Linked DNA regions of Homo sapiens: region 1 is linked to region 2. The links come from fine-mapping of genetic effects on gene expression. A gene starts in region 2. The other region holds a variant in brackets. All regions are shown on one strand. Distances are from middle to middle. Region 1 overlaps MSANTD3-TMEFF1 (MSANTD3-TMEFF1 readthrough). Region 2 holds the start of CAVIN4 (caveolae associated protein 4).

The links. PIP is the estimated chance that this variant, and not a neighbour inherited with it, causes the effect.
Region 1: its variant is fine-mapped to the expression of CAVIN4 in stomach (GTEx, PIP above 0.99).

What each region holds. Positions count from the first base shown.
Region 1 is chr9:100,483,677-100,495,695 of GRCh38, forward strand. The region is part of intron 1 of MSANTD3-TMEFF1 (MSANTD3-TMEFF1 readthrough); the gene reads left to right. The region is part of intron 1 of TMEFF1 (transmembrane protein with EGF like and two follistatin like domains 1); the gene reads left to right. Among named protein-coding and RNA genes, the nearest start is that of TMEFF1, 17 kb to the left of the region's middle. RefSeq lists an enhancer at 8,289-8,789. The variant T/C (reference allele first, on the strand shown) is at 6,854.
Region 2 is chr9:100,571,179-100,582,937 of GRCh38, forward strand. CAVIN4 (caveolae associated protein 4) reads left to right here and starts at 6,901. Exons shown (of 2, transcript NM_001018116.2): 1 at 6,901-7,373. The coding sequence starts at 6,966. It overlaps MSANTD3-TMEFF1 (MSANTD3-TMEFF1 readthrough), which reads left to right. Exons shown (of 10, transcript NM_001198812.1): 9 at 1,340-1,498; 10 at 5,338-6,458. The coding sequence ends at 5,422. It overlaps TMEFF1 (transmembrane protein with EGF like and two follistatin like domains 1), which reads left to right. Exons shown (of 10, transcript NM_003692.5): 9 at 1,340-1,498; 10 at 5,338-6,458. The coding sequence ends at 5,422. It also overlaps the pseudogene RN7SKP87.

The sequences.
Region 1 (12,019 bases), 87 kb before region 2:
TAGAAAAATGTTGTAATAGTACACCCAGATTCCCCAATTAAGATTTTACCACATTTGCTTTAAGTCTCTCTTTGTGTATCTACTCTTTCTCTCTCTATCGTCTGTCTGTCTGTTTTTTTTTTCCCCTGAACTTGGCTCTGTCAAGTTGGCCCCTACCAAAGGGAGAGGGTTAATTTATGTTTTAGTTCCATACTTTAAATTTTTTGTTTTGTCATCTCCTCTTAATTAAATAGTTAAACTTCCACTTATAATGATAGGTTTATTTTTCACAGTTTTTCAGTTTTTCTTATATTTTTGTTATTCTATGTAGGACATATACATTGAACATTATTTTGTATCATAATTTGTTGTACTTTTTACCTTTGTATAGAGTAGATTTCAAGTATCTCTTGAAGTTATCATAGGACCCAACCTTTTCTGAATTTGTGTTTATATTTTAGTTTTTAGGTGTTGGGATTTGTCTCCCAATAGAGTTATAGATCATTCTGCTTTCAGTGGCATTCAACTCATTTACATTAAATTAAGTAATTGATATCTGTGCTACCCTCCATCATCATCTTTTTTCTAAATTGCACAATCCAGTGTTTTCGACTATAGTCACAAGGTTGTGGAACATTTTCATCTCCTCCAAAAGGAACTTTACATTTTTTTTTTTTTTTGAGATGGAGTCTCTCTCTGTTGCCCAGGCTGGAGTGCAATGGTGCGATCTTGGCTCACCGCAACCTCTGCCTCCTGGGTTCAAGCGATTCTCCCTGCCTCAGACTCTCGAATAGCTGGGATTATAAGCGCCCGCCACCATGCCTGGCTAATTTTTTTGTTTTTAGTAGAGGCGGGGTTTTACTGTGTTGTCCAGGCTGGTCTTGAACTCCTGACCTCAGGTGATCCGCCTGCCTTGGCCTCCCAAAGTGTTGGGATTACAGGTGTGAGCCGCCGCGCCTGGCCAAGGAACTTTACATTCTTTAGCAGTCACTCCCCAATCCCCACCTCTCCTCATCCAGCCCTAGGCAACCACTGACGTACTTTTTTTTTTTTTTTTTGAAACAGTCTCTATCCTCCAGGCTAGAGGACAGTGGTGTGATCTTGGCGCCCTGCAACCTCCGCCTCCCCGGTTCAAGAGATTCTCATACCTCGGCATGAGATTCAGGTGCCTGTCACTGCGCCTGGCTAATTTTGTATTTTTAGTAGAGACGGAGTTTCACTGCGTTGGCCAGGCTGGTCTCAAACTCCTGACCTCAAGTGATCTGCCTGCCTCGGCCTCCTAAAATGTTGGGATTACAGGCATGAGCTACCAACCCTGGCCATGATTTACTATCTTTTGCTGTAGATTTGTCTATTCTGGACATTTCATATAAATGGAATCATACAATATGACCTTTTATAATTGGCTTCTTTCTCTTAGCATGATGTTTTTAAGGTTAATCCATGTTGTAGGATGTATCAGAATTTCATTCCTTTTTTTTGACTGAATAATATTTCATTGTCTCGATAATACCACATTTTGTTTATCCATTCAGTATCCATTCATCTGTTGATAGACATTTTTTTGTTTTTACTTTTTGACTATTATGAATAATGCCACCATGGATATTCATGTACAAGTTTTTGTGTAAATACATTGTTTCATATCTCTTGGGTGTATGTATTCCACCTAGGAGTGGAATTCCTGGGTCACGTGGTGACTCCATGTTTAACATTTTGAAGATTTGCCAAACTGCTGTCCATGTAAAACTCTATGTTTAACATTTGAGGATTTGCCAAACTATTGTAAATGGTTGCAGCATTTCACATTTTCATCAGCTATGTGTGAACATTCCATTTTCCACATCCTCACCAACCTTTGTTATTGTCTTCTTTGTTATAACCAACCATCTTCATTTAAGTTCCTATTTGTTATCCTTCATTTTCCCTATATATGTGGTTTCTTTAATGGAATTTAAATTCTCAATTTCTTTTAAGCTGGATTGGGAGATAACTTCAACCTATTTATCCCCCTTCATTTTTTACATTGTTAGAAACATTGTCTTAACTTAACTATTTTCTTTATTCATATAATTCTATTATTAGCTTCTTGAGCATTTAGGGGCTTGGCATACTTCTCATGTACTTGGAAATTCTATACTTAAATCTGAAAATTCTCTCCGTATATGCTTTTAGTTTATTAGGTAACTTAATTTATTGTAATTCCTTTGCTACTATTCAAATTCATCTATTTTTTAAAAAGTATCATGTATTTTCCATGGCTCAGCAGCCTTGTCATTTTTTCAGAAGTCATTTAAGGTTCTAAAGTTCTTAACGTATTCTTGTACCTTTAAAAACTTTGGCAGGTTATTATATTTTCAACCACAGCTCAATTTCTCTCTCTCTTTTTTTTTTTTTGCAAATATTCTGAGTCTGTCTTTTCCATGGATTAAAAAAGGGAAAAAACCCACACCTTTTTTCTTTGTTATAAGAGCAGTATATAATCTGTGTAGAAAATTTGAGGAATATGGAAAAATATGAAGAGGAAATCTGGGATAATTGCCATTCTCTTCTTTAATCTCAGTGTTTATGCTAAATTATTTCATTTTTCATCAGAAAATTTTTGAACTTGAGTTTTGCTCTTTTTGCCCAGGCTGGAGTGCAATGACGTGATCTCGGCTTACTGCAACCTCTGCATCCCAGGTTCAAGTAATTCTCCTGCTTCAGCCTCCTGAGTAGCTGGGATTACCGGCGCGTGCCACCATGCCCAGCTAATTTTGTATTTTTAGTAAAGATGGGGTTTCACCATATTGGCCAGGCTGGTCTTGAACCCCTGACCTCAGATAATTGGTCCGCCTCGGGCTCCCAACGTGTTGGGATTACAGGCGTGAGCCACAGCACCCGGCCTGAACTTTTAAAAAAATATTCATGTTGTTTTGCTTTGCATTTTCTGTTTATGCTGGAGCCACTGTTGTTCAGAGGTCAGATCTCCTTCTGGGATGTTTTATTTTTATTTTTTGAGACAATGTCTCCCTCTGTTGTCAAAGCTGGAGTGCAGTGGCATGATGGCTTACTGCAGCCTTGACCTTCCAGGCTCAATTGATCCTCCTACCTCAGCCTCCTGAGTAGCTGAGACCACAGACGTGTGCCACCATATCCAGCTAATTTTTAAAAATTATCTTTTGTAGTTACGGAGTCTCTCTATGTTGCCCAGGCTGGTCTCGAACTCCTGGGCTCAAGTGATACTCCCGCCTCAGCCTCTCAAAGTACAAGCATGAACCACTGTGCCTGGCTAGGAATTTTTAAGTTCAGTTTATTTTTGCCTTGTCAGCTTTCATTTAATATTGTTTTGCACGTGAAACTAAACTGCTGATGTTGCTGTATCAATTCTGTTGTTTATAGCCCAGTTGATATATTTAGATTCTTTATTGTTCACAAGTCAGCTCAATCTTTTAGTGTCCTGTATTCATTTTCTATAGCTTTTTTTCTTCTTTCTCTTTATTTTATTTTTTAAAAAATTTTTAATTTTTATTTATTAGTATTTTTTGAGGCAGGGTCTCACTCTGTCAGCCAGGTTGGAGTACAGTATCACTATCTTGGCTCACTGCAACCTCTACCTCCTGGGTTCAAGCAATTCTTGTGCCTCAGCCACCTGAGTAGCTGGAATTACAGCTGCCCACCACCATACCTGGCTAATTTTCTTCTGTATTTTTAGTACAGATGGGGTTTCACCATGTTTGCTAGGCTGGTCTCGAATCCCTGGCCTCAGGTGATCTGCCTGCCTTGGTTTCCCAAAGTGCTGGGATTACAGGCTTAAGCCACTGCGCCCAGCCTCCTTCTCTCTCTAAAGTGGTTTGAGGTGTTTTCTAGGTGGTACACTTGTGTTTACCATTGTTTACTTCAAGGTTATACCATAAGCACATCCTAATTCCCATTTATTTAGACCTAGTTTTAAAAAAATTATTCAATGTTTTACAACAAAATTTGTCGGGGTTTCTGGTTATGGTAGTGTCTTTTTAAGTTTGTTTTTGGTGGTTTCAGCCAGAGTAACAGTCAGTTTTCTTCATAGTTTGCAGTGTTCTTTTATAAGGATCTCTTATAACCATTGGAATCCTATAAGGGATTATTATACTCCTTTTTTTTTTTTTAAATTCTAGGAAACTGGGATTCTCAGATTTAGCACTTGGTCAAGATCATATAGTTACTTTTACTTAATCAAATAATTGGAACCCCAAGTCTGGAACTCTTTCTAATGCACCAGAATTTTGTGAAGTCTTTAAAAAATTATCTTTTAAAATCATTAATACCAGGTTTTTCAGTGCCAGTATGCAAGTTGCTGTGTAGATTTTCATCTTTGTGGGTGATTTCCCTGGGTTCTGGCTACCTCCTATTCTACTTAGTGTTGCAGACACTAAGGGATAGTGGTTAGAAATAGAACCAGAGGACATTGTTCTTGTGTTTAGATTAATTATTGATTTAAAAAACAGTTTAATGAAGGAAATGTATTGAGTATACCTGCAAAATCTTATATATGTAAACCGGCATATGTTTCAAAATAATGGGATTATAACTGTATGTATAGTTTTACAATGTGTTTTTTTTCACAATAGGTCTTAGTTGTCTTTTCATATCACTACATGTGTTTCTACCAAAGTCTGTGTAGTATTATGTCAATAATTTAATTCCCAAAAGATAGACATTTAGATTGTTTTCTACTTTGGTTTTACAGAAAGTGCTGACGTTAACAATCTTGGACATAGGTTTTTGTATGTTTTTCTTTTATATCTGTTATAGTTTCCTGGAAATGTTGGGTAAAAGGATAAAGACAATTAAAATGGCAATGCATATGGACACATGAGAGGTTGTGCCACTATGTACTTCCACAGTTGGTTTGAGTGCTCATTTTTCTATACTTTCTCCAGAACTGGTGCTAATAAAAAACAATAGTAGCTTACACTTAATAGAGTACTTATTATGTGTATTATTATTTTGCTCTAAGTGCTTTCCATATCTTTAATCCTCCGTCAGAATTTTGAGATAGGTGCTGTTATTGTCCCCATTTTGTAGATGAAGAAATGGAGGCATAGGTGGTAAATTACTAAGCTCACACAGCTGTGATAAGTGGTAGAGCCGGGATGCTGGACAAGGTGGTCTGATGCCAGGGTGTCCCTCTTAAAAAACATATTATAATGCCTGTTTTTAATTTTTTTATTTCAATTTTTCCAAAATTTAAGCAGCATGATTTATATGATTTAAAAATTATTTCTATTTTTTATTGAGATAATTTTCATAATGTAAAATTCAGCATGTTAAAGTATACAATTCAGTGGTTTTCGTACATTTACTATATTGTGCAGTGATCATCACTATCTACCATCTAATTATAGAACATTTCTATCACCCCAGAAAGTTTCTACCTGTTAACAGTCAGTCCCACTACTCCACACCCCCATCCCCTGGTAACCACATAGAGACTTTCTCTGTGGATTTATTTATTTTGGATATTTCATATAAATGGAATAATACAATGTGTAGCCTTTTGTGCCTGAGTTATTTCTTTTAACATAATATTTTCTTTTCCTTTTTCTTTTTTTTGGAGATAAGATCTCTGTTCCCAGGCTGGAGTGTGGTGGTGCAATCATGGCTCACTGCAGCCTTGACCTCCGGCTCGTGATTCTCCTATGTCAGTCCCCCAGTAGCTGAGACTACAGGCATGTGCCACCACGCCTGGCAGATTTTTGCATGGGGGTTTCACCATGTTGCCCAGACTGATCTCAAACTCCTGGGCTCAAGCAATCCTCCTGCCTTGGCCTCCCAAAGTGTTGGGATTACAGGCGTGAGGCACTGCACCCTGCCTACATAATTTTCAAGGTTCTTATATACTGTAGCATGTAATTGTTTTATTTGATTTTAAAAGTAATACAAGTTTGTTGTAAAACTCAATTCAGAAAAATACAGAATAATGAAGAAAGCTTAAATTCTACCGAGAGATAACTGTGGTTCCTATTTTGGTGGGTATACCTTCCAGGTTTTTAAAATAGGCATTAAAAAAAGTTTGTGTTACATACATTTTAAAAAGCCTGACTTTAAATGTGTCATGTCAGGAAATGTAGAGATTTTTCATCATTAATTTTAATAACCGCACCATAACAGATTCAGTTTATGGTTTGCCAGGCTAGTGTCAGAACCCCAGAGATCAGAAACATCCATGAGGAAGAGAGTGTCACAGCTCTGAGATCTTTGGCTAGGATTGGCGAGGCCTGGAAAGACCCTGGGAGACTTAACCACTCAACTCTGTACCCAGGCCTTTTCTTCCATCTGATCTTACAGTAGTTTTTCTCCCTGTCACCTTGCCTGGAGAGTCCTGATACAGGCATTTAGAATTAAAGTAGGCAGCGGGGGAAGATTGCAGGAGTGGGGGTGGAGGATTGACAGGAGCAATGTGGTTTAACAAAGGGTAGTTGGCAGTAGTATGCAAAATGGAATGAAAAATATTGGAGTCAGACGATTGTGTGGCATATGTGAAATTTCTTTCGTTAAGTATAGCTTAGAGAAGTTTTAGCCATCTCTGCAGTTGATGCTTTTTAATATTAATGTAAACTGCTTTTGGTTTTGTATCATAAAATATTAGGTAAAGTTTCTTTTTCCTCCTCATATCTTTATACTAGAAGATAACTAATATGATTAGTAAACAAGTTGAAGAGGATTTAATTTCTAATTTTTCTGATTTCCTGGGACTTGAAGTCAACATTTGCTAAATCTATTGCTTGATTTTATACCCTGAAATGTATTTTCAGTGATTTGTGTCATTAGAGGTGCCCCTCAGATTGGTTGGGAGTTGAAGTCATATCTGGGAAAAGAAAAAAAGTGAATATTTGTTGTATAACTACTTGTT[T/C]TAGGCACGATTGCTTTTGAATACATTATCTAATCATTACAATATCAAAGGAAAGTATTATTCTAAAAGGAGAACTACCACGTGAACTTGGCCCTTCCTGATATCTAAACTTATGCTTCGTCTGTGGTATAGCAAACTGTCTCTGGGGTTGTCTTTGAAATCACATTGAGGTTTTTTTTTTTTTCCCCATTAAATAATAACCAATATAGAAACTTGAAAAGGGGAGAAATCACTCATTGTTTAACTGCTGTAACAGGTTACTGTTACCGGTTTTGTTTATTCCTGGCTGGATTATCTTATATGTATGGTGTGTGTGTGTGTGTGTGTGTGTGTGTGTGTGTGTATGTGTGTATGTGTGTATGTGTGTGTTTGAAATGAGTTTCACTATATTGTCCCGGCTGATCTTCAACTCCTGGTCCTTCTGCTTCAGCCTCCAAAGTAGCTGGGACTACAGGCCTGCATCACAGTGCCTGGCAGGTTTTTCATATAAAATCATAGTCTGTGTATATAGTTTTGTGGTCTGCATTTTCACTTTAACATTAATAAGCTTATTTCCATATTCTATAATATACATCTTTAAATAGCTTTATAATATTCCATAGTTGTACCACACCATTTCCTGGTGTGCAATATTTCAAATATTTAAATATTTTAAATGTTTCTGCTATTTTCAGTATAGAGATCATGGAATTGTTTTGTAGGCAGTTGGGTACATGTTCAAGAACAAACTGGCCTTGTTCTGGGAGTGAAACCATCCAGCAGGGTCCTGTCAGATTGGATTGGTTTGCTTTTCTGAAAAAGGGCAGATTTCTCCAAATACTACTAACATCTAGACAGTCAGTATAAACTCATGACAAATTTTTTTAAAGGACAAGGTGAAAAGTTTGAACATATTCTGTGGGGAGTCAATACAGAATCCAGTAGAGATGAATTAAAGTTTTCCACATGTTAATAAGGCCTTAGGGAACATTAATTTATAGGACTTTCCCCAGCAGTGCTCTGAAGACTGGAAATAGCACTAGCAAAAACAGATGACATGGCTTTAATATGGTTGGGAAAACCAGGTTTGAAGACTCGAAGTGGTGGGTGTGAATGTGAATACTGCCAGAGAATGAACAAAATGAGATGACACATGGGATGGTTGAAGGCAGAACATTTACTATACAGTAGGGATCCTTTTGTCTTGGTCCCATAAGAATCTGGTAGTTATTTGGTTAATTGAGAAAGTTATTTAAAGTAGGGAGTCACAAAAATGATTCATAAGTGCATGTAACATTTTATTTTAACATACACATATTTATTAAATATTTTGAAAGAGGGCCTATAATTTTTCTTTGAGAATAGTTTCTTTCCTTTTTTTTTTTTTTTTGAGACAGAGTCTCGCTCTGTAGCCCAGGCTGGAGTGCAGTGGCACGATCTTACTCACTGCTACCTCTGCCTCCTGGGTCGCAGTTCAAGCAATTCTCCTGCCTCAGCCTCCCGAGTAGCTGGGATTACAGGCTCGTGCCACCACGCCCAGCTAATTTTTGTATTTTTAGTAGAGACGGGGTTTCATCACGTTGGCCAGGCTGGTCTTGAACTCTTGACCTCATGATCTGCCCGCCTTGGCCTCCCAAAGTGCTGGGATTGCAGGCGTGAGCCACCGCACCTGGCCTCCTCTTTCTTGAACAAACCACTTGTATAATGCATTGATAACAAACTCCAGTTTTAATCCCTTTAAAAAGGAAGCTAAAGACTTGTGGATGCAGAATTCTAAATGCAACTGTAGGTTTTTTTTAAAAAGTAGCTCACCTTATTCAAGTCTTTGAGTTTAGTTTTCATAGAAGTAATTTATTTTCACTCATATGAAATGTTGAAATCACATAATTGTAGTAACAACTACATAGGCTGGGTAGCTGACTCTTGAAGCACAAGAACAGCTACCTTGGTTGGAGCTAAAGTGCTCATGGATGTTCTAGAGAGGGCCTAGTAGCCTTGAGAATTCATTGTGCCATAGGCATTGCTCTGTAGGTTTTATAGAGAATGACACACTTTGGTTAATCTGGAGAGTTGATTAAGTTGGAGATAAGTTCTAAGAGTGTTATTGACACGGACTGGGCAGTAGGAGAAGGAAAAAGGAGTGGGTAAATGAAAAGAGGTCAGAAAATTGGGGGGATAATGAAGACTGTTTGGTTACAAGGGGAGGCCAGAAGTGTCAACTGCTCTAGAAGGGTCAAGAAAAGGATTGGAGGATTTAAGAAAAAAGCCACTGGATCTGAGGTTGCTTTGACCTTGAAGAAGAAGAGTTGCTATAGGAAGAAGGAGGAAGTGAGGCCTGCTGGAGGTTAAGGTACTATTAAAGGTGGGGGATTTAACATAAACTTGGAATCAATATATTTAGGTTCCTCTACTGAAATGGAGAATAGCTGTGGCAGTATGTTGAGATCTTTTGAGATTGCCGATTATTTGACTAATTTTCCTTGTAGTGATTGTGTCAGAGAATTAGATGTAAAGTGTTTGCTTTCCCTTTACTGTAGTTTTCAACTGGGGACAGTTTTGCCCCCTTCCCCCCTCTCCCCCCCACAGGATGTGGTTGCTTATGTCCAGACAATTTTGGTTGTCAGAGCTGGTGTGGTCCTACTGGCATCTAGTGGGCAGAGGCCAGGACTGTTGCTAAACAACCTCCAGTGTACAGGATATTCCCTACAACAAAGAATTATCTGGTTCCAAATGTCAATAGTGCCCAGACTGAGAAACCCTGAGTTCTGTTGTAACATCTAATGAAGTTTATTTCCTTTTGGCTCTCCGTGAGTGTTAGCTAACTCATAAGATCCCCAAAACTACCTTTCTTTTTAACGGAAGGGTGGTAGAAAAGTCGTATCATTCTGGAAGGCTGCTGGATCTCATTTTGAATCAGAGCCTGAACCTAGTTGTTGCTGCCAGAAGTTGGGAATTTGGGCAGCTCAGGTTCATAGAAAGCAGAGTTTCTCCCACTAGTGTGTATTGTTTCTGAGCTTTGAAATGTTAATGAAATTCTCGAGACAAGTTTTACATTTTGAGAATTGTGGGGCAGATTTGCAACAAGAGCAAAATATTTTGTTCTGAGCAACTCTTGTGAGTACTTCTTTGTGTAAAACATTTCTATTTGGAGAATTCATTTTTGAGGGCCTTAGTAATGGCTCATCCGTTTTACTGAATTTCCATTTTGGTTTCAGGAAGGCAGGTGGGTAATCATCATAATCATTGACAGGTAGTAGAATGTCCTCTTGATGCCTGGTACTGTACAGAATACTTGAAAACAAAGAACATTCAGAAGATGATCCCAAAATAGATTCCTTCTGTATTGGGTTTAAGCTAAGGCAGTGATTCTGTTCTCAAATTTGTTAGAAATCAGCTGGGTGTGGTGGCTCATGCCTCTAATCCTAGCACTTTGGGAGGCTGAGGTGGGCAGATGGCTTGAGCCCAAGAATTCAAGATCAGCCTGGGCAACATGGTGAACCCCATCTCTACAAAAAATACAAAAATTAGCTGGGCATGGTGGTCCACACCTGTGTTCCCCCAGCTACTCAGAAGGCTGAGGCCCAGCTATTTGGGAAGCTAAGGTGGGATAATCGCTTGAGCCCAGGAGGCAGAGGTTGCAGTGAGCCGTGTTCACACCACTGCACTCCAGCCTGGGAAACAGAGTGAGACCTTGTCTCAAAAAAAAAAAAAAAAAAAAAAAAGTAAGGTGTCAGAGCACCAGCAAGTCATGATTCTCTTGATAAATTTTATCATGTGGTCTCTGATGTAGCACAAAATTTTTTAAGACCATTGCTTAGAAATATTTATCTTATTAAATTTACACACAATCATTCTATTGGAATTATGTTTGCATGTATCAATGGTGTGACCAGTGGTGGCTTATATGATAAGGGCTTTTTAAAAAATGTATTCATTTATATACATTATTTTCTATAATGGTAAGTCTGGAAAGAGGAAATCCACAGGCGGTGTGGTGATTTTATGATTCCTCCATCTTACTGTCTTGCTCCTGGTCTTTCTGGTCTGTCATCTTTTGGCTGCTGCAACTTTAGGCAACAGGTTTGCTCTCCAGTCAAGGAAAAAAACAGAGGAAGAATGAAGGAGGAAGGGACAGTGCCTACATATGAACACAGAGCGAGGGAGGCCAAGAAATGTAGGTTATTTAGTTGGGTACTTTGTTTCCCTGAACAAAATTGGAGTTCTCTAAGTAAGAAGGGGAGAATAGATCCAAGGTAGGCAATTAGCAGTGACTGCTGCAACTACAAAACAATTTAAAATGTCCATTCATGAGCTTGTGACATTCATGACCTGACCTGTGTTCTCATGAAACATTGTTGGAATATTTGTATTAGTATTCCTTACCTATTTGTTGAACATACTTTTGCTGCTAGCCAGCAAAATATCTGAAATCATCTGATGTTAGTTGATAGCCAGCAACAAATCTGAAATAATCTCAGATATTGAAGGTTTAAGAAACATAAATGAAAAAACCCCTTAAAAATGAGAAGTTTTTTTTGTTGATTTTTTTTTCGTTTGCAAATGAGAAAATTTCATATTTGATTTTAATGAAGGCACACCCTAGTCCAGGACACCAGTGTTCCTGAGGAACATGGTTTTGGAACCACTGATATTAATATTGTTTGTGTGTACTATGAAATTACTTTCTCTCTGCTTTCACTTACATTGTTTTCCTAGATAAAAACGTTCTCTTTTCTTTCCTGTCTTTTACTATTACTCATATGTTGTGGGCAATTAGAACATTCTATATTTAAAATATCTTTTCCAAATTCTTTATAATGATCCTGTATTAGCTTTATTATGATAAAAAAGCCTTATTAATTTTTCAAGGTCAATACAAGTCTTGTTTTTTCTGACACTGCACCCTATGCCTCAAATCCAGTTTTGTCCCCTGTCTCTTGAACTCCTACAGCAGTCATAGACTGTATGACGCATTTAGCCCCTTAATTATAGACTGTATTGAATTCATCACTAATTGTTGCATATATTAGCAAGATCATCCCGTTACATTTTTTTCCTGTGTGTCCAAAATTCTTAGCATAGTTTTAAGTACCTAGTAGATGCTTAGTAATGGCTTTCTGATGATAAACTAATCACATTTATGCATGAACACACATGAAACTAGCATGGATTTGATAGCAAGATATG
Region 2 (11,759 bases):
ATTTGGTGCTATGTTCAGAGGACTGTAAATGTTTATACCTATTTTTTCAATAGTCTTAATTTTCAGGTACTTAGCCCTAAGGAATAACACTAAATATAGAAAAGCGCATATTCACCAAGATGTTTACCACATCTAATTTATAATTGTGAAAAATTGAAAATAACTGACATGTCTTAGAACTGGGAATAGATAATGCTAGCTATATTATAGTCACTGGATGGAGTATTATATTTCTGTTTTGAAATTATATGTATCTATTTTGAAAAAAATGCTAAGAGAGTAGATTTTAAGTGTTCTCACCACAGACATGATAACTATATGAGGTAATGCATATGTTAATTAGCTTGATTTAGCCATTCCACAATGTCTATACATTTCCAAATATCATGTTGTACATCAGTGGTCCCCAACCTTTTTGTTGCCAGGGACTAGTTCCGTACAAGACAGTTTTTCCATGGACTGGGGATTGGGGGTGGGGGTGATGGTTTGGGGATGATTCAAGTGCATTACATTTATTGTGCACTTTATTTCTATTATTATTACATGGTAATACTTAATGAAATAATTATACAACTCACCATAATGTAGAATTGGTGGGAGCTCTGAGCTTGTTTTTCCTGCAATTAGACAGTCCCATCTGGGGGTGATGGGGGACGGTGACAGATCCTTAGGCATTAGATTCACATAAGGAGCACTCAACCTAGATCCCTTGTGTGCGCAGCTCACAATAGGGTTTGCGCTCCTATGAGAATCTAATGCCAGTGCTGATCTGACAGGAGGCGGAGCTTGGGTGGTAATGTGAGTGATGGGGAGTAGCTGTAAATACAAAGAAGCTTTGCTTACTTGCCCACCACTCACCTCCTGCTGTGTGGCCTGGTTCCTAACAGGCCATGGACCAATATCTGTCCATGGCCCGGGAGTTGGGGGGGATCCCTGTTGTACATGATAAATATACGTAATTTTATTTGTCAATTTTTAAGCAAATTTAATTTAAAAAGTGAAAAAAAGGAGTAAATCTTTGTGGCTTTAGATTAGGCAATAATTTCTTAGATATGACACCAAAAGCAAAAGCAACAATAACAAAAAAAGATATACATTAACAATATTCAGCAACTTTAAAATTAATGTGATATAACTTAGGTGAAAGACGCACCATGTAGGCATATCAGAAAGACAGTAGGGAAACATACAAATGACATTTTTCCCCCAGATGGTAGGAAAGTGCATGATATCCTATTCCTGTTTAAATTTTATTACTATTTTGTATTTTTTAATGTAAAAGCTTGGGAGTATCAAAATTTGTAATTTTCATAGGAATATATATATTTTTCCTTTTCAGATGTGAATCTGGCTACACTGGACAGCACTGTGAAAAGACAGACTTTAGTATTCTCTATGTAGTGCCAAGTAGGCAAAAGCTCACTCATGTTCTTATTGCAGCAATTATTGGAGCTGTACAGATTGCCATCATAGTAGCAATTGTAATGTGCATAACAAGGTAGGTAATGATGTAAGAAATATCAACTTTAAATTAGAGGCAGGCAACTGTTTATTTATAGATGCTTTGAGGCCACCAGTCTATTAGGAAAAATCTTATGATCAGTTCCCTGAGGTTTTCAGTGGTCTCTCCCTATCCTTCTTCTTTAGGATACGGGCAGGGACTAATTCCCAGTCTTACAGGTATATCTGGGCGACAAGCAGAGAGGGAATGAGAATAGTCAATGAGATAAAGGAATTTAGGGATCTGAGAACTGTATACAGTCTTTGAACACTGTATTCTGGGAAAATAATGTTAGTAGCAATCTTTTTTTTTTTTTTTTAAGAGACAGGGCCTCACTCTGTTGCCCAGGCTGGAGTGCAGTAGCAATTAGAGCTCATTGCAGCCTCAAATTCCTGGGCTCAAGTGGTCCTCCAGAGTAGCTGAGACTATAGGCGTGAACCACCCTGACTGGCTCAGAATTTCTAGAATGATCTGCACATGCATAGGAGATCCATGCAGAAGATTTTTAAGCCCTGCACAACTGCAAGGGGTTCTGTGCCCTAAGAACGTACTTTACTCACAGTTAGTATAGTAAGAAAGGAAGAAATCAGAGGCTGAAGATAGTTTTATTGTGATATCATGGTGTTAACATTACTTCATTTTCAGGATTGCAGCGATAAGTAATAAGCTTTAAAATTCTGTATTATAAATAAAATTATTCGTCATAAATTAAATGACTTATTTGGAGTGCAGTGGCATAAAATGGGTCTTTTCTAAACTGAGTAGAAATACATAAGTCAGACTGAACTGGGCCTGAGAAAAGTCAGAGTAAATCCAGCAAGTTCGTGTTGTCTTTGTGCTTCCCAGTCTAATGCTTTTCTTCCTGCTTACCTCTTTCTTTAAGCTTCAGTTCAGAAGTCTCATAAGCATCATTTCTCCACTTCCCTGCATTATTCTGGGCAGAGGGTTGAAGCATATCAAATACAGATATTGGCAGGCCATAATGGATTTGTGGCCCTTCTATCCAAGGTCTGGATAGAAGCCAGACCTTCAGTAGTCTCAGCCATCTGGAGCTGAGATGATAAATCTAGAAATGATAAAAAAGAAAAGGTTCTCCAAGTAACAGATATTTTTCATAACACCTAGGCATGAAAGTCAGTGCGCTTTATTTCACAGAACAGATGATCTGCCCTTAGGCAAGACTACTGAATATAAAATTGGACGGTAGATCAAAGTAGGGACATAATCATGTAACAAATAATGATAACAGAAAGAGAAGATAGGGAAAACACATTTAACAGCATGACTGGCTGTAGCCATTTAATATAGACTCAGAGGTTAAGTAATTTGTCTGTGGTCATCCGACTAGTAAGTGGAATTGTCTGGATTTGGATTCAGTTTGATTCCCATTCATTCTTTACACTGAAAGGTTCCATGTTGAGTCATCTTGGGAAACATGTTTGCCCAGTATGACCATTGCATGGGAGCAGGGTTCAAACTTGATTTTGTAGCAGTTTAGGGTTTTTGAGCAGGGGAAGGACTTGGTATAAACCATATTTTTCAGAGTATTAATGAGTCATCTGAAAAATTCATTGGAGTAGTGAACATATGAGGTAGGGGGAAGACCATTTAAGTCATTATTAGAGTTAAATAGGAGTGAGGTAATGAATGATTTGGAAGGCAGAAGGAAAATTAAGGTAAAGTAAGGGGAGATGTTTGAGGCCTGGAGATAGTGCCTTTATTTGAGACAGGGTCTCACTCTGTCATTCAGGCTGGAGTGCAGTGGCATGATCTTGGATCATTGCAACCTCCACCTCCTGGGCTTATCTCAACCTCCCGAGTAGCTGAGACTACAGGCATGCGCCACCATGCCTTGCTAATTTTTGTATTTTTTTTTTTGTAGAGACTGGGTTTGGCCATGTTGCCGAGGCTGGTCTTCAACTCCTAGGCTCAAGTGATCCACCTGCCTCGGTCTCGCAAAGTGCTGGGATTGTGCCCAGCCAGATAGTGCCATTTTTAAGAGGATCAAAGGATGTCAGAGTCAATGAGAAACAATTCTGAGTTCAACCCCTTCATTTAGAGAAGTTGGGAAACTGAAGCCCTGAGATAAGAAGTACCTTGGTCTAAGGTCCTAGAGCTAGGAAAGCCCCCTTACAACAGTCTTTTACCCAACTCTTTCAGTGCTATAATGCTCAACTACTCAATTAAAATTACCTGGCAGGCAGTTTTGAAGTAGGTACCCTCTAGTTTATACTCCAGATCCCTCCTTGTTGCCCTCACAGCCACTTAGACATCACAGTGTATTTCTAACTATGTCACAGTGTCTTTACTGCCCACTGTCTCTACGATTGAAGAGTCATCTCATTGAATTTATCACAGATTTCTCCTGGAGGCCTGTCTTTTTATTATGGTATTTCCTCCCCTAGAATGTCTTGCTATCTTGGATTTAGAACATTTATGTACTTGGATTTATTTCCATTGAGTTTTTAAGTATCTCTCCCACACAGTCCATTATGAGACAGCTGTTGACATATACCGTGGCGGCTGTCACATGGGAGGAATCTTCTTTAAAAGGATGTTCCCACTGACCTGTTTATCAAGACTGCATGAGTCAATTTTTCTTTTTTTCTTCTTCTTGGAATCGCCTTTCATATTTTCAGACTCATAGAATGACAGATTGTCAGGAACCTTGAACATCACCTTAACTAAACGCCCTGATTTTATGGATTTAAAAACCATGGCACTAGGAAATTGGAATTTTTCCAAGGTCATGGTGAGTTAGTGACAGTACAAGAGGGTTGCTTGATCTGTCAGCTAGTTTTCTCATTTATGAAATGGAGATGATTCCAACTCTGTCTACCTCACACTTTTAAAATGAGGATTAGTGAGGTAAAACCATATACAAAATGGAAGTATTGTCAACACTTTTAGTCAAGGCAAAGCTGTACTCTTTGAAATCGAACGAAATGAGGAGTACTCATTGTTATAAGACTTTCTTTCCATTAGGTTGTAAATTTCTTGCTGGCAGAGATTTTGGAAGCTAGTCCAACTCCTAATTTATTTTTTACATATAGGAGAATTGAGGTTGCACAGTTAGTTATTAGCAGAGCCCAGAATTCGTCTTAGCCCCCTTACTCCACATTGCATAGCACAGCATCTTGTGTTTGCAATCTAGTGTGCAGGCACAAGAGCAGTTCCAACCCAGTGAGATTTGTACTGCTGTTGAGAAACGTGGTAAAATGAGAGCAGAGTTAAAGAATGTCCCTTATCCTCAGTGTGGCAGTTCCTTATGGGCTTCTGTGGTTTGCCCCAGGAGGGTGTGGACAGCTTCTTTTGAGTCATTGTCTAAAATCAGTAGACATTCCTATGTATTCATAGCTGAGGTTAATAAGCACACTTCTTCCTGATTTCTCCCTTCATCTAAGCTCTTCTTGTCATTTTAGAGCTGTCTTCTCATAATGCACAGGGAAAGTACATAGGCCAGAGTCCTTTCTCCTGTCAGGGGTTTCATGTTATCAGTCACTGTGACTAGGGAGTTTCTAGGCTGGAGGAAGGGTGGGATATCTGTCAGGGATGCATACATAGTAGCATAGACACTGGTAATGAGTTTTGCTTGTGCCAGTACCTATATTACATATCTAATCCTCTCAACTTCCAGGTTTGTAGAGGAGGTAGCAGTCTGAATTGTGTTCATCTTCATCTTGTCTTGCAACAGATACCATCTCATTTCCCTTTCATGTAATTGCTTGCAATGTGGCTTTATGTGCAAAATGTGTATTACTTTGGAAACATTTGAAATATCCTGAACAAAATCATCAAAACAATATTTTTCTCTCTTTCTTTTTTTAATGCAACAGAAAATGCCCCAAAAACAATAGAGGACGTCGACAGAAGCAAAACCTAGGTCATTTTACTTCAGATACGTCATCCAGAATGGTTTAAACTGATGACTTTTATATGTACACTGACCATGTGATGTACATTTATTATGTCTTTTTTTAAAGAATGGAAATATTTATTTCAGAGGCCTTATTTTTGGACATTTTTAGTGTAGTACTGTTGGCTCGTATTTAGAATATTCAGCTACGACAGTTTTGGACTGTTTAGTAGTCTTTGTTTTATGTTTTTAAATACAGAAATTGCTTTCACAAATTTGTACCACATGGTAATTCTAAGACTTGTTCTTTACCCATGGAATGTAATATTTTTGCAAAGATGGACTACTTCACAAATGGTTATAAAGTCATATCCACTTCTTCCACAATGACCACAGCAAATGACCAAGCATGAACTAAAGGTAAAGATGTTTACAGATTACTTTTCTTACAAAAAAAATCTAGAAGACACTGTGTTTAAATAGATATTTAAATGTTTTTGAGATTTAGTAACTGATTTTTTAGACACTGCCTATCGCATGAACTGTAAAGCTGTGTGTATTAGGTGTAAAATATTTATAAGATATATGGACTGGGGAATTTGATTATTCCTCCCTTTGAAAAAATAGTCCTAATAATTTGAACAAATATGTTAGTAATGATGGAACAGATCAATGAAAAGTAGATATAGATATTGTGAAAATAGGCTGTTTAACAAACAGATTGGAATAAAGCCTATTCTACCAGTTAAACTACTTTAATACACATTCATTTTTAAAGAAAATGTTTGTTTTAACATAAATAAACAAATCGTATCAGTGTTTGTGAATAAAATACAAAAATGATTGTTAATGATTGGTGCTCTTAAAGTGAGCTTAAAATTTATCCAAGACGTATATCCAAATTTGTCCTGTAGTAATAGATTAATATTCATAGATTGTTGGTGTTTAAAGATCTGAAGTGTGAGTAGAATGTATTCAGCTGTTTAACATGTAGTTTAGATATTCAAAAGTATGCATGTAGAATTTAAAGAATATGTTAAAAATTATTAATTTTAATATTTTGTTTGGAAAAGCATGTTATAATATAATGTTTTCACTATATGGCCTCTGTTTTGGTGTGTTTATTTACCAAATTTTTTGATATTGGTGTTTCAGTATATTTAATATGTGAAATTAGTAGAAAAAGCAGATTTCGGTTCAGAATTCCCCTTTACTGTTACAAATACTGATTGAAATTATCTAAAGGCAAAAGCTTTACCCAACATTTGGAGTTTGCTTTTTTGATCATTTGGCTTCTAGGTTTAATATTAGTTACATGGTGGCTTTAGTGAACTTTTTTAAAAAGCTTTACTCTTCTACCCACACAGTCTTATTTGAGTCCCTTAGTCAGTCAGCAAGCATGTTTGGAACAGTCCCCGGTGCTTTGCAAGGGTTCAGATTGCAGAACAGTCACATATGGGTATTTGTAGTTATAAATACTTGACCGTTCTCTAGGGGTGGGGTTTCCAACTCTTTAAACAACCCTGTTGCCTGTTATCAAGCTGACTTTTTGCTCCAAGTGCCAGAATTGATTGTGGTTAGGACATCTTACGCTGAGAAATAAATAAAATGGAACATAATGGGTCTGCTTCAAATGCTGATAAAATCCACCAGAATCGCCTGTCGAGTGTTACAGAAGATGAAGACCAAGACGCTGCTCTTACCATTGTGACTGTGCTGGACAAAGTAGCCTCCATCGTGGACAGTGTGCAGGCAAGCCAGAAGAGAATAGAAGAGAGACACAGGGAAATGGAAAATGCCATAAAATCCGTCCAGATTGACCTGTTGAAGCTTTCACAGTCGCATAGCAATACAGGGCATATCATTAACAAATTGTTTGAGAAAACCCGAAAAGTTAGTGCTCACATTAAAGATGTGAAAGCCCGGGTGGAGAAGCAACAAATTCATGTTAAAAAAGTTGAAGTCAAGCAAGAGGAAATAATGAAGAAAAACAAATTCCGCGTGGTAATATTCCAGGTAAGCTTGCACTTGTGTTCAGCTTGCTTGTTCTAATCTCTTGCATCTTTTAATTGCCAAAAGTCATATCAGAGGTTTCCAGTGTCACATCTTAACTATTGTATATATTAATACAATGGAGTTCTGTATTAGCAGCAATCTCAGGATAAAACCATTTCTCTGTTAACCAAAGTACTATCTGTCATTTCGGTATTTTGAGCTTCTCAACCATTTCATGTAATATGAACTGTGGCTCATAGCTTAGGCTATTTCTTGCCTTTGAAACTTAATATTGGTAAGGCCCTTTCAGCATATTAGCCTTATTAGCATGAAGCCCTCTCATAGACTTTGAAAATGTTAGAACTAGAAGAAGACTCAGAAGCCTCTAGTTTAAAACACTTCTTTGTTCTCTAAAAGAAGAAACTGACAACCAGTAGCAGTGGTTTTTTCTGCTTATATGGAGAGCCTGGAAAGGCCTAAACAGTAGATATAAACTTTTCAGAATGTGATTTGTGTATTGGAATTTTTACATATAGATCACAATGATAGCGATTTTCCAATGAACAATGAGGCAATTATTTTTCTTATTATTATAGTAATACAAATATATGAGTCACATAAGTAGTTTCCTATGTTTGATTACAAAGTCTTTTTACTTAAGTGATTTAATATAATATTTTGTGTGTGGCATTGTGTATTGAGCTAAGTTCCCATATTATTCTGCGCTTGGCACTCATATTTTTGGAAATAGGAACATATTTATGGCAAATGCATAATATCTATGGTATATTTTCAAAACTCTTACAGTTAAAAGGAAAAAAATTGAACATTCCTTCACAGTAGAAAAGTGGGAAACTGTCATTATCAGGCAGTTTACAAAACACAAATAAGAATAAAATTCTAATTTCACCTATTTAAATGTTGGCAGTTATTAAAACCTATACCCAGAGGTTAATTTAAGGATTGGGAAAAAACACTTTCATATTCTGTTGGTAGAAATATTAATTGATAAAACATTTTTGAAAGGCAGATTTGGTAGTATGTATTAAGAAATTTAAAAATTCACAAACTTTTTGGCCCCAAAATTTATGTCAAAGAATTTGTTCTATGCATAAAATCAGGAATGTGTGTAGGAATGTTCACTGATGCATATAAAGTGTTATTTTTAAAAATGACACCTGTATTTTAAAAATGAGTACTTATGTACATAGGAAAAAAACTAGAAGAATATAAACTAAATGAAATAGGAACACAGTTGGATTATGTAGAGGATAATTTGTAAAACACGAGGGATGTGGCCCATAACTCCCCGTGGCATTCTTTACACATTAGGCAATTCTCCATAGCCCTCTGTTGACTGATAAGGTTACACTGGGATGGTGGAGTGGTATTTTAGGTCTGTTTTTAAGAGCCTGTAGGTTATTTAGGAAAAGTAATAGGAGAGTGAAGAGTTGCTTATTTCAAAGGTAGATAGGGCAGACTATGCTATTTGAAGTTCTTTATCATTTCCCTTTCCTTTCATGTCCCTGGAAGTCCTTCTATAGGCTTAAAAATTTGGGAAAAAAAAAAAAAGCCTGGGCAATGTGGCAAAACCCTGTCTCTACAAAAATAGAAAAGTTAACCAGGTGTGTCGTCGCGTGCCTGTGTTCCCTGCTACTTAGGAGGCTGAGGTGGGAGGGTCACCTGTGGGGAGGTTGAGGCTACAGTGAGCCATGATTGTGCCACTGCACTCCAGCGTGGGTGATAGTGAGACCCTGTCTTAAGAAAAAAAATTGAAAAATTGAAAAAAAATCAGTCACCTGATTTTCAGAGGCCAGTTCCAGTGTTAGTATATGTAGTGGGAAATGTAGTATCCATTCTTTGATTTGCCTTCTGAAGATGTTCAGAATTGTGGGTATATCTTACCCTCCACTGGCATGGGCGCATGGCCAGGAAACATATTTGGCATTCACGACTGCTGAGAACTTTTGTGCAAAGCAGTGGACTAAGTGCCAATTAAGATTTACAAAAGCAAGAGCAAAGAAGTTTCTGAAAAGTTTCCATTGACTCTGTTGATTGACATAACTCTTCTTTAAACTTTAAGATGTTTCTGTATTCACCTGTTTAGTCCCTGTAACTTACTGCTAATTGTTCCTTTCTTTGATCCCTTGTAGTTATTTAAAGCAACTGAAGGGTGCTAGTTTAGGGCACATCTCTTCTCTTGTAAGAAATAATGCCATGAAGATTCTGCATAATTAAGTTGTTCAGAGTAGCAGCAGTTCGTCAAAAAGTAATTGCTATCATTTATAATGGAACAGCTCGTAGAGAAAAGAATAATGGACATAGAACTCTGATTCAAAGATTCATTAGATGTTAGAAAGCTGTATACATGGTCACATGGTTATTCTTAGCAGTTAAAATTAGTTATAATTAATCATCATAGTTAAGGTATATAAATGGTTATATTGAGATTGCTCCTTCTGCTAAAATTAACTTGAAACCAAGCAATTCAGCCATAGTAAAAATTACCTGCTATTTCTTATACATTTATTATTTCTTTTCGAACATACTATATCTTCACTAATAAGCCTCAGACTTTTGTATATTCAGAATTTCCCTAGCTATATTAGTTTGAGAGCTTGTTTGGAAGTTCTAGCAGGGGAGTGCAGCTGCTTGTATACCCTTGACCAAAGACTGGTCCTCCTCTATCGTGGATGGTCATCCTCTTCGACCAAGCGTGCGGCTTCGAGAGGGACACACATGGAGCGGTGAGGGAGGAAGGGGACACCCACTTAGCCCAGCCAGATCAGCTGAATCAACCCTGGCAATCAGTGGGTTAACAGATGTTGCAGCCAATCGCCCTCACATCCCATAGCTATATTAGTTTGATGTTCAATCCAGCCCACAGTACTCTGAAGCACAGTATTCATTCTGTTACAAAAATGGTCTTTTTACCTGGAGTTTTATATTAAAAGATACAATTATATTTGGAAGTCAACTATAATTCAACATCTACAATCTTCAGTTATTATAACAGTCTATTCACCATTAGCTCATGATGTCGCTGTCTCATTGGAGTTGCAACTAATAGATCTGCGTAACAAGTACTTTTTTCTGACTCTACTCCTGTTTTGTTTTACTTTAAAGCCTGATTTTATATTATTTGTTGTGTACTTAAAGGAGGGTATGTGATTCCTGGGCTAAGCTATATCTGATTTCTTCACAGCAAGATTGTGTTTTTTCCCCTATCTAACAGTAATTAACTTTTGGCTCTTTCGTTTTCTAATTATACCCTCTCAGGCCGTGCCAACCCACATTGTGTTGCTGAAGCTACTCCCTGCAGCAGGTGTCAGGAAAGGAGAGGAATAATTTCGCTGCTTCAAACTGATTCATCAGAGAGCTATGAGACGCCCACCCCTGCCTTTTTTAGCTCCTAGACTCTCTAATCCTATAGCCAAAGAATTTAATTTTAAATAAGTATCCAAAGAAATAAGGTTCCAGGGATATCTTCTTGACTATCAGGCTGATAGGTTTTGGAATATGCATAAATGTGTTTTGTATATATTTATATATTTTTTGATTGAATAGATTTAATCTGGATCTCACGTGGGGGCACAGTTTCTTTTAGAAATTTTAACTCGTGGTTCAGTTAAAAATCTCATGATTTTTCAACTTTTGTCTGTTTAGTTTGAGAAATGCTCCCTATTCAGTTGGGTTCCTCTAGCTGCTGTGGTTGGGCTGGCTCTCAAGGTTTCCAGTGTGTGTCATGTCCCAAATCCAATTCTCATCCTTATTCTTTTGACACATTTGACACGATTGGACCTCTTTCTCTCTCTCTCTCTCTCTCTTTTAAAGAGACAGGGTCTTGGTCTGTTGCCCAGGCTAGAGTTCTACGGTGCAATCATAGCTCACTGCAGCCTCCAACTGCTGGGGGCAAGCCATCTTCCTTCTTCAGCCTTCCAAGTAGTAGGGACTACAGGTGCGCATCACCTTGCCTGGCTACACTTTAAAATTTTCGTGGAGGTCTCACTTTGTTGCCTGGGCTGGTCTTGGCCTCAAGTGATCCTCCCACCTCAGCCTCCCAAAATGTTGGGATTATAGGCATGAGCCACTGCACCCAGCCCCTCCCTTTCTCCTTGAAACTTCTTTCCTCTTGACTTCTGGGGTTACTCCTCTCTTTGGGAGTTCCCCCTGCCTCACTGGCTGATATCTGTCCTTTTTTTTCTTTTCTCATTTCTTCCTTCTACCAGTCCAAAATCCATGCTCTGTAACACCCATATTCAAAAATTCTTTAAAATATTTTTTAATAACATATTTGACAGCAAGACCTAACTTGACCTGAAATTATTCAGTGGAAAAACCTGACCTAAAGTAGCAGGAGGCTATTTCTAGCTTTTATCCCAACTTAGTGTGAATATTCATATTTTT